Linked DNA regions of Homo sapiens. The protein of the gene in region 3 purifies or fractionates together with the protein of the main gene of each other region. This does not show direct contact. Each region holds a gene or a part of one and is shown on either strand. Other genes may lie near its edges.

Evidence for each region. Proteins that work in one complex are often made in the same cells at the same time.
Region 1: the proteins of TTC17 (region 3) and C1QTNF9 purify together in Homo sapiens (co-immunoprecipitation; one large-scale study listed by IntAct). This does not show direct contact.
Region 2: the proteins of TTC17 (region 3) and TRPC4AP purify together in Homo sapiens (co-immunoprecipitation; one large-scale study listed by IntAct). This does not show direct contact.

Annotation. Positions count from the first base shown.
Region 1 is NC_000013.11:24,307,969-24,313,083, reverse strand, and holds the start of C1QTNF9 (complement C1q and tumor necrosis factor-related protein 9A precursor), read right to left. Parts: upstream 3,505-5,115; 5' UTR 3,468-3,504; intron 1-3,467. UniProt on the Homo sapiens protein: Probable adipokine. Activates AMPK, AKT, and p44/42 MAPK signaling pathways.
Region 2 is NC_000020.11:35,085,604-35,089,974, reverse strand, and holds part of TRPC4AP (short transient receptor potential channel 4-associated protein), read left to right. Parts: intron 1-4,371. UniProt on the Homo sapiens protein: Substrate-recognition component of a DCX (DDB1-CUL4-X-box) E3 ubiquitin-protein ligase complex required for cell cycle control.
Region 3 is NC_000011.10:43,399,659-43,404,627, reverse strand, and holds part of TTC17 (tetratricopeptide repeat protein 17 isoform 1 precursor), read right to left. Parts: intron 4,741-4,969; coding exon 4,580-4,740; intron 3,183-4,579; coding exon 3,070-3,182; intron 631-3,069; coding exon 484-630; intron 1-483. UniProt on the Homo sapiens protein: Plays a role in primary ciliogenesis by modulating actin polymerization.

The DNA.
Region 1 (5,115 bases), on a different chromosome or scaffold from region 3:
GTTGCCCAGGCTGGACTCGAACTTCTAGGCTTAAGTGGTCCTCCTGCCTCAGCCTTCTGAATAGCTGGGATTAGAGACGTGGTCACCACCTAGGTTGGCACTATTTTTTTTTTCTTTTTTTTTTTTTTTGAGATAGAGTCTCGCTCTGTCGCCCAGGCTGGAGTGCAGTGGCGCGATCTTGGCTCACTGCAAGCTCTGCCTCCCGGGTTCGCACCATTCTCCTGCCTCAGCCTCCCGAGTAGCTGGGACTACAGGCACCCACTACCATGCCCGGGTAATTTTTTGTATTTTAGTAGAGACGGGGTTTCACCATGTTAGCCAGGATGGTCTCGATTTCCTGACCTTGTGATTCGCCCACCTCGGCCTCCCAAAGTGCTGGGATTACAGGTGTGAGTCACTGCACACGGCCGCTTGGCACTATTTTTTAATAAGAAATTTTAGCAAGTTTATACCTCCTATTTAGCCTCTTCTTTAATGTAGAAGGTTGAGGATTTGCACAAGGAATATAGAAGAAATTATATTAATGTTATTTTGAAAAATAAAAAATTACATTTGTGCCTCTCACAAAGCTATGGGTTGGACCCTCAGTTTCATTAGTTCAACTACAGTTACACTCTTGACTTTTAATTTCTGGGTCTGGTCTTTTCCCAGAAGGCACTAGAGCTAGGAGCCTCTTCTGTCTCCCATCTTTCCCTGCAATCATCCACTCTCTCTCTCATCTGAATTACTGTCCTCCCCAGTCCCCACTTACTCTGTACACCACACCTAGACTAATGATCACTTAGTAGGCACCAACCTGGGTTAGAGCTTTATGAAGATGGTGACTGCATTTTTCTACTTCCTTATTTTCAGTCAAGTATTTGTTGAATGAATCAATGCAGGCATGCAAGAAATACTATCCTGGTTCCAACTGTGTGTGGACCATCACTTGGGAAGGTGACTGGGTATCAACTCTGATCCTTGTCAGTGCTTTCGTGGAGTTGCTAGTAATCTCCAACACCCCTTCTCACCTTCATCCAGAGTAATAGAAATTTTAGCTGGGCTTCTAGGGGCCCATGATAGACTGCACTCCCTAGCCTCCCTTGCAGCCTGGGTATGACCATGAGCTAGATTACGGGCCATGGGGATGAGCAAAAGTGAGACGTGTAATTGTGTGCAATGACCGGCCTTAAAGGGTAAGGGGGTGCCCTTTCCCGCTTCCTGTGGGGGGGTGTGCATGGCATGGTGAACCATGTGGGACTCCTTGAAGGAGGGCAACAATTTGGGGATAGAAAAACCCCTGGCCTCAGATGACTCCACAGACCAGACCTGCCAGCACATCTTTGACATAAGCATATGAAACAGAAATAGACTTCTATCTTGCATAAGCCACTGTTATTTGGGGTCTTGACACACAGCTGAGCCCACATCCTAATTCAAGGCATGCGCTGCCCAAGGTGCGGCCGCTCTTCAGAAGTGAGGAGGCTTGCAGACATCTGTAGTCAGCCAGAGTGACAGCTGCTGGGGACTCACTGGGCATACAACCCTCCCAGTAATATATGTAAAAAGCGACAACAGTCACTGCCTTGGACAAATCAAGACAAGATCTCTATACATTGATATCATATGTATGTATAGAGAATAGAGGCCATCATTCTGCAGAATGCTGTGACCGCATGAGCCAGACATACTGGCATGGTCAGGGCAAAGGGACACAGACTGCAAATAACTTTGAAGTTAATGTTTTTTAGTCCCCCCAAAATAGTGTTCTTATTTAGTTCACTTATTTCTGACTCATTCTCCGATTCTTTACCTATATCTGTCCTTTGCTAAAGAATCTCTTGATAAATGGTCACCCAGTGCCCTCTTCCTGATTAATTTTCTCCAAGAACATCATATCCTTAATTCTACAGCCAAGGTTATCACTCCTCAAGATTCTTAACTCTCCAAAACTAAGATTTAATGTAAACCTGCTAGAAATCAGCTGAGTGATATCTCCTGGGTTTCCAAACCTCAGAGCCTCAGCTTCCTCCTGCATGCACTGGAAAGGACGAATGCCCTCCCGGATCTGACGATCTAAGAGTCAAAATAGCTCTAGGCTGCCTTCATCGAATATATTGTCTTCCATGCACTCTCTATATTACACACTTTATACATTTCTTCAACATATCTTTTTTTTTTTTTTTTTTTTTTGAGACAGAGCCTCGCTCTGTTGCCCAGGCTGGAGTGCAGTGGCGCGATCTCGGCTCACTGCAAGCTCTGCCTCCTGGGTTCACGCCATTCTCCTGCCTCAGCCTCCCGCGTAGCTGGGACTACAGGCGCCCACCACCACGCCTGGCTAATTTTTTGTTTTTTAGTAGAGACGGGGTTTCACCTTGTTAGCCAGGATGGTCTTGATCTCCTGACCTCATGATCCACCCGCCTCAGCCTCCCAAAGTGCTGGGATTACAGGTGTGAGCCACCGCGCCCAGCCTTCTTCAACATATCTTGACAGTTATTTTTTTCCTGCACTGTAAATTAGCATAGCCATAAAAATGAAAATGTGTACAATCTGAATATGATGAACCTGATCAGGAAAAAAAAGTACACATTAAAATTTGTGCAAAATAATCTATAAGCTTCTCTAGAAAGCTCTCTTAAAAAGATCCATCATAGGCCGGGCGTGGTGGCTCATGCCTGTAATCCCAGCACTTTGGGAGGCCGAGGCAGGCGGATCACGAGGTCAGGAGATCGAGACCACAGTGAAACCCCGTTTCTACTAAAAATACAAAAAAAAAAAAAAAAGTAGCCAGGCGCGGTGGCAGGCTCCTGTAGTCCCAGCTACTCAGGAGGCTGAGGCAGAAGAATGGTGTGAACCCGGGAGGCGGAGCTTGCAGTGAGCTGAGATCCTGCCACTGCACTCCAGTCTGGACAACAGAGTGAGACTCTGTCTCAAAAAAAATCCCAGCACTTTGGGAGGCCAAAGCGGTTGGATCATAAGGTCAGGAGTTCAAGAGCAGCCTGGCCAAGATGGTGGAACCCCATCTCTACTAACAATACAAAAATTAGCAGGGTGTGGTGGCCCATGTCTGTAATCCCAGCTACTCGGGAGACTGAGGCAGATAATTGCTTGAACCCGGGAGGCGAGGTTGCAGTGAGCTGAAATCATGACACTGCACTCCAGCCTGGGCGACAGAGCAAGACTACATCTGAAAAAAAGAAAAAAAGCCCACTATTCTTATGACTTATTCTATGGTTTTTCTCTCTCCTCCCAGCCAATTGCAGAGTTCCAGCAGAAGAATTTCAAAATCTGCTTTTATCTCCTCTTTAGCCTCTTCCTCAAGAATGAATTTTGAAAGCGGCTTACCCCTTTCCTACCCAAAACTGTATAGACATCTGACTATTTTGCAAATAACTAAGCAGGATTATCCCACAGATAATATAAGCGTTGTTTTAGGACCTAGATGGCTTAAATTGAATGTAAAGAAATCCTTTCCTGATGAACTTACCTGGACCCTAGGGCTGCAGGCTGGACCCAGATACTGTGCAAACCAAGAATCAAGGGCCAGCTAAATAAAATCAGCCTTCCTGCCATACAATTCCCCAGTGGATATGTCTGCAAAATAGCAGGAAGGGGAGGGAACAGAGGAAGGCCAAGATGTCTTGGAAGAGCTTCAAGAATTACAGCAACACGTAAATCAGGTAGCATATTCTACCAGCACCACTTAGTTTAGAAAAGTTAAATCCTTTTGAATGAAATGAGGGAATACTTTCAAGGGGAGTCTGAAGGAAGGAGTGCCCCAGGCAGGTTTCTTTCATATATATATATATATATATATATAATACTTTAAGTTCTAGTGTACATGTGCACAACGTGCAGGTTTGTTACATATGTATACATGAGCCATGTTGGTGTGCTGCACCCATTAACTCCTTTCTTTTTCAAAGTGATGTTCATGCCTTTGCTTCAGTGCTTCTCCCTGACCTTGGGGTAATTACGGGCAACAGGACAAAACTGAAGGCTGCTAACTGTTAAGTGGCTGGGTCTCATTTGGATCCCGGACCATTAGAATTCCTACCGCTTAATTAGATTTTCAGATGGGTGTGTCGTAATGCCTTACGAGTTTAGGCATTTGTGTAGGTAAGGATTCAGTGTCCATTCCCCTCTCACAATCACACACTCCACCTACCACGGAGAACGCGGTGCAACCATTTGTTCAATGCCAGTAATCATGGACTCACTTTCCTCGTGTCTAGTAGTAACATTTATCTAAAACTTACAGTAGCTTCCAGAGGACAGAGGAGCCCAGCCCGGTTTCCCGAGATGCCGCAGTGCACGCAGCAGGAGCAGAGGCCACGCACAGAGCAGGAGGCCACGCAAAGAGCAGGAGCAGAGGCCGGGTGTACGGGTGGGTGCGGGGCTCACCCCAGCTCGGCGGCGAGGCCACGCACAGAGCAGGAGCCCACGCACAGAGCAGGGGCAGAGGCCGAGTGTACGGGTGGGTGCGGGGCTCGCCCCAGCTCGGCGGCGCCGACTCCCTCTCCCGCCTTACTCGCCCCCGTGCCTCAATTTCCCCGTCAGTGCAGCGGACATGACAATGCCGTGGTCCCAGGTGGGCGGCGGGATCTAATTAGTCGGTGTAAAATGAGTGAGATCTGGCTTCTCCCCGGCACCCCGCAGCCTGCCCCCACTCTTGGTGGCTAAACGCAAGGAGCCCCTGAGTCCCAGCTCCGCTGGGGGCTCTCAGCAGTTCTGGCCGGGCTCCCTCTTGCTCGCGTGGCTGGTCTCTGACCCCTGCACCGCAGGCGGCCCCGACGGAACGCGCGACGGGTCCCCGACCTCCTGCTGGGGACACCCGTCTCGCTGCCCGGCCCTTCCCCGCTTCCCGCGCCTCTGCGCCCCGGAGAGCTCTGAGACAGGACCACCTGGGCAGCCTGCCGGCCTGGACCTCTGCCTCAGAGCCAGCGACGGAAGCACAGCCTCGGGCCTCCACCGGCCACGCGCTCCCCATTCCGGGCTCTCCCACGTCTGCACACTCCAGCCCAGCCACGCGGAGAGGCTTCCAGAACCTGCCCTGCGGCCCCGCTTTGCTGACACCCCACTCACTCCGTGGGTTCTTCCTCCCGCCAGGACCCTGCCGGGGCCTGGGGTCCGTG
Region 2 (4,371 bases), on a different chromosome or scaffold from region 3:
TTAATTTTTGTATCTTTGGTAGAGACAGGGTTTTGCTCTGTTGCCCAGATTACCCATATTTTTATACTGTTATGGCATGTGGTATAGTAGGAAAAGACCAGATTTAAACATTTTTTATTTTTTATTTTTTAGACGGAGTCTCGCTCTGTTGCCCAGACTGGAGTGCAGTGGCGCAATCTCGGTTCACTGCATCCTCCGTCTCCCGGATTCAAGCAATTCTGCCTCAGCCTCCTGAGTAGCTGGGATTACAGTCGTGTGCCACCACACCTGGCTACTTTTTGTATTTTTAGTAGAGATGGGGTTTCACCATGTCGGTCAGGCTGGTCTCCAACTCCTGACGTCATGATCCCCCTGCCTTGTCCTCCCAAAGTGCTGGGATTACAGGTGTGAGCCACTGCGCCTAGCCAAAATTTTTTCATTGTAGTAAACAAATATATAATATAGGCCAGGTACATTGGCTCATGTGTGTAATCCCAGCACTTTGGGAGACCAAGATGGGATGATCACCTGAGCCAGTTTGAGTCAAGCCTGGGCAGTGTGGTGGAGCCCCAGCTCTACTACAAAAAAAAAAAAAAAAAACATTAACCAGGTGTGGAAATGCATGCCTGTAGTCCCAGCTGCTCAGGAACCCGAGGTGGGAAGATCGCTTGAGCCTGGCAAGTCAAGGCTGCAGTGAGCCATGATCACACCATTACACTGCAGCCTGGGCAACAGAATGAGACCCTGCCTCAAACTATATACATATATAAATATATATATGTAAACATAAAATTTACCATCTTAACCATTTATAAGTGTATAGGTCAGGCCCAGTGTGGTGGCTTACACCTGTAATCCCAACACTTTGGGAAGCTGAGGTGAGCGGATTGTTTGAGCCCAGGAGTTTGAGACCAGCCTGGGCAACATGGTGAAACCCTGTATCTTAAAAAAAAAAGGTGTATAGTTAAGTAATGTGAAGTATATTCCCATTGTTGTGAAACAGATTTCCAGAACTTTTTCATCTTGCAAATCTGAAACTACCATTGAACAACTTCCCATTTCTCCCTCCCAGTCCTTGGTAACCATTCTTCTCCTTTCTGTTTTTGTGAGTTTGACTACTTTAGATAACCCCAGTATAGTAATACAGTATTTGTCTTTTTGTGACTGGCTTATTTTACTTAACATAATGTCCTCAAGGATCATCTGTGGTATAGCATGTGATGGAATTTCCTTGGAAAAAAAAATCAGATTTTAAAGTAAGGTGGACCTGAATTGAATCCTAGCAGGGTGACCAAGATTAAGTTATTTAACCTCTCTTAACTTCAGTTTCCTTATTTCTAAAGAGGTGATGATAACATCTATCCCATAAAGTTGTTAGGAGGATTAAGTGAAATAATATGTTTTAAAAGCGTAGCCAGTGTGGCATATAGGAATAGTTGTTTAGTAAATAGTTGCTCTCAGCTAGTAGTTAATTAGACTGGGCTTCCTGAAGAGACTGTGTCTTATTTTTCATTGTATCTGCAGAGCCTGAAACCTTGCCAGCCATTTGATATTCAGGAAATTGCTTAAATTGAAATACTGTGTCCTCAGTCTAATTTCTGTCTGTACTTGCCAAGCAATCTCATGGCTTTAAAGAGTTCCAGAGTCAGATTACCTAGGTTTGAAACCTAGCTCTGGTATTTACTTACTATGTGTCTTTAGGCAAGTTATTTAATCTGTTTATGCCTCAGTTTATTTATTTGTAAAGTAAGTATCATAGGACCTGACCTTCCAAGGTTGTGGTGAGGACCAAGTGAGTTGTACATATAAAGCACTTAAAATAGTGACTGAAACATACTTTCTCAGCTATAAGTACATAGCTTACTGCTATAAAGATTAGCTTGTATTGTTATTAATAACTGCTCTATACGCTGACGGATCCTAAGTTTCTGTTTCCATTCGTGTTTCTCCTTTTAGCTCTGGATGGGTAGGTATATCCAATTGCCTTCTAGCATTTCCACTTTGATGTCTAATGGGCATCTCAAACTTAGTATGTCGAAAGCCAAAATCCTCTCCCTTTTCCATCAGACCTGATCTTCTCCATCTCCCTAAATGGGGCATAAGGGAAGCCTGAGTCATGACTACTGGCCACATAATTTGTAATGGGTCAATTCTACTTGGATTTTAGTTTGCTTTATTTTCTTCCCTTCGTTTTGTTCTGCCCTCTGTCAAGGCAATAAAATATGCTGGGGTGATACTTTGGAGTTTACTGAGCCTTTTCATATTCATCAGCACATTTGATGCTTAATGCAAATCAGATCTTATAAATCCTTTGCTTAAAACTCTCCAGCCTCATCTCATTGCAGTTGATAGAATCAATTCTGGATTCCTTACCATGGGCGTACAAGGCCCCAAATGATCAGTACGAGTTGAAGGAAAGGATAGACTGAGTAAACGCTGGGCTCTAGGATAGTGCAGCTCACATTACAGGTCATGACCCGCCATCCCTGGATGCCCTTCAGTTTGGCAATCTGGTGACAGACTGGGTTGTGGGATGCTGTTATATTTCCCACATGGCAGTCGTTGCTTCCTTTATGATTATTGGCATATCTAAATGCCCCTGAGTGTTCCTTACTTTATATTTTTTCTTTAGATTCACTGACTTTTTTTTTTTTTTTGAGATGGAGTCTCGCTCTGTTGCCCAGGCTGGAGGGCAATGGTGCAATCTCAGCTCACTGCAAGCTCCGCCTCCCAGGTTCATGCCATTCTCCTGCCTCAGCCTCCCGAGTAGCTGGGACTACAGGTGCCCGCCACCACGCCTGGCTAATTTTTTTTTTTTTTTTGTATTTTTAGTAGAGACGGGGTTTCACCGTGTTAGCCAGGATGGTCTCGATCTCCTGACCTCATGATCCGCCCACCTCGGCCTCCCAAGGTGCTGGGATTACAGGTGTGAGCCACTGCGCCTGGCTGACTTCTTTTTTTTGTGAGATGGAGTCTCGTGCTGTTGCCCAGGCTGGAGTGCAGTGCACAGTCTCGGCTCACTGCAACCTCCGCTTCCCGGGTTCAAGCGATTCCCCTGCCTCAGCCTCCTGAGTAGCTGGGACTATAGGCATGTGCCACCATGCCCGGCTACTTTTTGTATTTTTAGTAAAGACAGGGTTTCACCATGCTGGCTAGGCTGGTCTCAAACTCTTGATCTCTTGATCCACCCACCTCAGCCTCCCAAAGTGCTGGGATTACAGATGTGAGTCGCCGTGCCCAGCCAGATTCACTAACTTTTAAAAAAAATTTCATTAGGCACTACTTGTTTTAGCCTCATTCTAACCATTAGTATTTATGAAACCTAGGCATTTAAGTCAAACAAATCTTACCTGGCTTTTCAAAGGTAATTTGATACTGAAAAACTCCTGATTAGGATAAAGTCTTATTCATATATATATACACACACACACACACACACACACACACACACACACACACACACACACACATATATACACACACACACATATATATACACATATATATATACACACACATACACACACACACACACACACACACACACACACACACACACACACATATGCCATTCATTTCAATGGGAAGTTTTCGTATTCACAAGCCCTTAAATTTGCTCCTAATTTTACTGAATCATACCCCATTAAAGGACACAAAAGTATTCAGTGGTTAACATGTATTGTCAGAATAACCCAACAAGGTATTTTATCTTTATTATCCTTTAAGATATCTATTTAGGCTGGGTGCGGTGGCTCACACCTGTAATTCTAGCACTTTGGGAGGCCGAGCTAGACGGATTCTTTAAGCTCAGGAGTTCAAGACCAACCTGGGCAAGATGGGTGAAACTCCATCTTTACTAAAAATACAAAAAATTATCCGGGCGTGGTGGTGCGTGCCTGTAATCCCAGCTACTTGGTGGCAGTGGTGGTGGTGTGGGGGGCTGGGAGGGGGAAGGGGGCAGGGCTGAGGTGGGAGGATCACTTGAGCCCAGGAGACGGAGGTTGCAGTGAGATTGCGCGAGACCCTTGCATTTAGTGTGGTATTTTGAGGCATTAGATGTCTTACATTTAGGATTAAAGAAACAAATAAGATGCACAGTTATCTTCATGGAATTTAGCCTTTAGTTATTTTTAAAAACAATAAAATCAGTGGAAACTGTAAATGTCTAGAAATGTCATATTTGCTAAACAGGTTGACAGTTTAGAGGGTATGATGTAAGAGATTATCACTGCTGTAAACTGTTAAACCACAAGTACTTCAAGAGAAAACCCATGTGATACCTGCCAGTAATTCAACTGGGAAGATGACTGAATGGTGGCACTTTTGTCACAGTGCTGAGCTGTTCACAAGGAAAACAAAATTCTAATGATTTTTTTTTTTTTTTTTAGACAG
Region 3 (4,969 bases):
ACAATTCTTTCTTAGCTAGTCTAGACAGGCACATGTACTAACTTGTTTATTGTCTGTATCATCTACCAGAATGTAGGCTCCAGAAGAGCAAGGGGGCTTATCTATTATACTGCCAGCATTAGCCTGGCACACAGGTGGGAGTTCAATAAAAGAATGCCGATTAAGTGAAGTATATAAAAACATACGCTTGGGTCAAGTTTAGAAACTTGTTAAGGTTGGTAATAATACTCAGAGGATAAAGCTTTGAACTGAAATCAGGGTGTCTATCTGCTCTACTTGACTGGGAAAAACTCAAGGCAGAAATTGCATCTTACTCATTCACTACCTAGCAGAATAGCTTCCATTTAATAGAAATGTACTACACGTTTGCTGAACTAATCTGAACAGTCATAGAGGCCATATTAATCAGTGAGGTTGAGGGCCACTGCTTTAATGGATCTTGCCAGTTTGAGAAAACTGCTTCGTCATCCTCTATTAACTTACCCTATATGCATCAGAGTCCCTGCCCCAAATCCAGAGAATAGAATGGGCTACGGGAGAAGACTTGACCGAATCATTGATATCACTCTGATTTGATTGAACATCAAAGTTCACAGACATCATACTGGAGGTTGATGAATCCTCACCAAACTAGAAAATGAAACAAAAAGTTCAATCAAATTGAAAGTGGAAAAGGAGTTGTGATTATAATTTAACTCACACCAAAAAAGCGAGTGAATATTCAAAATTAGTAGAAAATCAGAAAGTAGCTCAGTAATAAAGCAATTGGATCTTTTAAGAACTATGCCCCAACGATATTCTTTCATGGATAATACATAGTTAACAACTTTCAATAACTTTGCCATTGGAGTATGAGAAAAATGGCATAGGTCGTTTTCCTGTCCCTTTGCTTCATTTTTATGATTTAGTCTCTTTAGGTTAATAATTAGCTAATTGAGAAATCTGGTTCATTATTCCCCTTTTCTTCCTACACTAAAATGCTCACCACTCTAAAATTGGTGTGCCGTGTGTGGGTAGAGGCGAGGGAACTTAAGAAAGTATTCTTAAGGGTTCTATAACTATCACTTAAGGATTACAGACTGTTGTGCAATCAATTACAAAGAAAAGTTTTGAGGGTGAAAGGGTAACCTAGATGAGAGAACACAAACATATACAGCCTTCCTTCAAAGCAAGGTGGAACAATGTTGGATATACTTACAAAGATGCTTGTGTATTTCTGAAACCTTGCTAGATAATGAGAATGGGACTGGGGATGGGATGGGGTAGGAAAGACAAAAGGAAAAGGAATGAATATGACGAATTTGTAGCTCTAGGTCTTTGTGAACAGGAATGGATTCTTTCACTATATAGTGGTGATACAATTTTATGAATATAGACTATTGGAAGCTACACTCCTTCAAATGATCGGTCTTGAGACCATCAAAAAGTCCAAAAGGTGTATTGGGTTTCAATCTATTTCATTTCTAAACATCCCCCTTCTTCCCTTTAAAATGCTTGGTTTTAAGATAAAGAGCTATAATCCCAGAGGGTGTGAATCTGGTCTTCTTTATTTTTTCCCTTGGAAACCAAACATGAGATATTGCTGGGAGCTGGTTTACAATACTCATAGGAAGCTTTTGGTCCCTATCACTATTTCCCCTTTAAAATGGCTTCTTAATTTTTGTCTCTTATTTTTTCCCAATGCAGTCTGGATTTTTCCAGATTAAAGAGTTCTAAGTTTTTGTGGTTTGTCCTCCTATAGATGCTCTCCTAATCTCTTAGTTATCTTAAGTAGTTATTGCTGGAAATTTCTGTATCTACGATTAGACATGATGAGTTTTCTCTAAGATAGAATAAATGTTTTATTTCTAATACAGGTTGAGTATCAGTTTTCTGAAATGCTTAATCAGGAGTATTTCAGATTTGAGATTTTTTTGGATTTTGCAATATTTTATTACACTTACCTGTTAAGCATCCCAATCAAAAAATGTGAAATCCAAAATGCTCCAATGATCATTTCTTTTGAGCATCATGTCAGTGCTCAAAAAGTTTCAGAGTTTGAATCTTTTTTTTTTATACTCAGAATTCTGGCTGTACTTGCTGTCTGTACCACTTATTCAACATCTATTATATACTATCTGGTATCATTACATGTGTTAGTTCTTCCCAACTAGATAGATTAGGATTGTATATGTGTATGTGTGTGTGTATACACGTGTGTATATACAGCGACAGAAAGTGAGAGAAAGTACACACCTAGCAGTGGGCTTAATAAAGATTTTCTGTTGATAATGAGCATTTTGTTGGTGGTATTGGTTGAGGCAATATAATTGGACTGATTACTTCAGGAAACAAATAGCATGGTTGCTCTCAAATTTTAAATAGGTCTTACTCTAAAAGGGAAAGTGGGGAGATGAAAGCTTTGAGTTCAATAATAATAATAGCCCAATTCTAGCTCCCATGGTAAAAGAGAAAAGAATCAAATGCATGTGCATATAAATATTTAGATGGTACTTTAAGAAATAGAAAGCATCCATGGAGTTATTGAGTACTCCCTATAAAATCTGACTTCGTAAACATAACAACATAACAGATAATCAAAATCTCTCTCTCGCTCTTTATTTATTTATTTATTTATTTATTTATTTATTTATTTATTTATTTATTTTTTGAGACACAGTCTTGCTCTGTTGCCCAGGCTGGAGTGCAATGGCATGATCTGGGTTCACTACAGCTTTGACCTCCAGAGCTCAGATGATTCTCCCGCCTCAGCCTCCCGAGTAGCTGGGACTACAGGTGCATGCCACCATACCTGGCCAATTTATATATGTTTTTGTAGAGATGGGGTTTCACCATGTTACCCAGGCTGGTCTTGAACTCCTGGGCTCGTGATCCTTCTGCCTCTGCCTCCCTAAGTGCTGAGATTACAGGCGTGAGCCACTGTGCCCAGCCTCAAAATCTTAAAGATCTAAATGACAATCACAAATTTTAGGGATCAAATATACAAAGAATCAAGAGGAAAAACAAAAGTTTTAAAAAATCTTTATAAAGCAAACGTTTATAAGAATTAGACTGGACCAAGAAAAAGACCTGAACATAGTCCACATTTTCAAAGATATCTCCACGATGATAGCGTACAGGCTGGTCCCACTGGCAATGTAAACTATGCTGCTGGTTGACCAGTCGGCATATCTGATGATTTCCTGGAATAAGAAAGGAAATTACACAAATGATGAGCAAGGTCAACAATGCCAATGTGATTTTCTTAGACTAAGTCATTTAGTATCAACCCTGTATCCCTCAGAGCCTAGCAGGCTACTTACGTAGGACGTACTTATATAGAGAAATATTCATTAATGGTTAATCAAATAAATCATTCTAAGAAGTCCCAGTTTTTCCACCTACAAAAACAAAGGGACTCCACTAGATGATTACTGAGGTATCTTTCAGCAATTATAGTCTGTGATTGTAAAATCTAGTGATTACATCGTTTTAAGAGACTTTGGCCATCTTTCTGGAGAGAATTTGCTTTACATACTTCATAATTTTGTTTCAAATGCATATATAAGAGCTCTGGTTACATTTCAATATACTGGGCAGTAAGTAATTCCAAAGACTGAGCATACTCTTTACACTCATAATAGCAAAGAAAACTTGTTAAGGGAATTGTAAAATAAACTATAAATGGTCACAGCTAAGTGCCAAAGGTTAAGAGGCTTTCTTGACCAACATACTTATCAAGGGAGAAGGGTATAATTAAGAGATTCTATTAATTTATTCTCTGTTATTGAGTTGTCAGATCTGCTCCCTTGTCATTAGAAACAAAACATTCTAGATATAACCAAATCATTGTTCTCATGCCAACCCAAGTTCCTATAAACCAGTGGTTCTATTTTTATGGATCACAGATGCTTGAGAGATTTTAATAAAAGCTAGATACCCTCTTCCCAGAAAAATAAAATTGGACACATACACAATTCTACATATAATTTTGGAGAGGATTTCAGAACCCCCTGAAACTAATCCATTGACCCAGGTTAAGAATTCCAGTCTAAAATTTTACTTCTAAAACACTGTTTTTAAGAGAGCAAGAAAAAAAGGAGTATGGATGGGTTGTTTGTAGGGTGGGTCTGGCTTGTATTCACTTAGTGTAAGGCCTTGTTACCCATAGTGCAGAGTTTTTAGACCTGCGGCAACAAGCATCACCTGGGAGCTTATTAGGAAGGCAGACTCTCAGGCCTCAATTCAGACCTACTGAATCATAATCTGCATTTCAACAAGATCTCCAGGAGACTGATATGCATATTAGGGTAGGAAAAAAAACTGATGTTGAACACAGAATGCAAATAACTGTTAAGACTTCTAGGATCTACAAGACTTGTTTTTTATTTCAAAATGTAAATTTGAAAAAAGCAAGGTAGACCAAACCAGCTCCCCAGGCCTCCTGGTATACCCACAGTGATGAATCATGCTTTCGAGATGTAGGGAAGTCATAAACACAACTTCACACTGCTTTAAGGCTACAAGAAAGTTATGATAGTAAAGCATGCTAAAAGTGAATTTCCTAACCTGTCTTCAATTACTTGGAGTCACTACTTACCTAATTGTGCCTCTTTTGCCATCTGAGTCTCATGAATGATATTTCTTAAGATTTGCTCCTCCTGAATCAGTTTATGTTTTTCTAGGATTTCCTGCTGTCTCAGGTAGTGGTCATGCTGCTTTTGATACTCTTTTAACTCATTCAGTGTTCGCTGGAGAGATCTTAACATTTTTTAATACCAGGAAAAAGTTAGAGCTATAAAATCATAAATTTTAAACCCACTTAAATGCACAGATTTTTCTGGTTCTCAGCAACAATTACTGTGTGTTTTCCTTTTATTTAACATACAACCCTGTATCACCAGTTCAAGAATACTAGGGCAAAAAGATAAATGTGAAATTCTTCCTTTAAATACAACTTTTTTAAAAAATGGGGTCTTGCTCTGTTGTC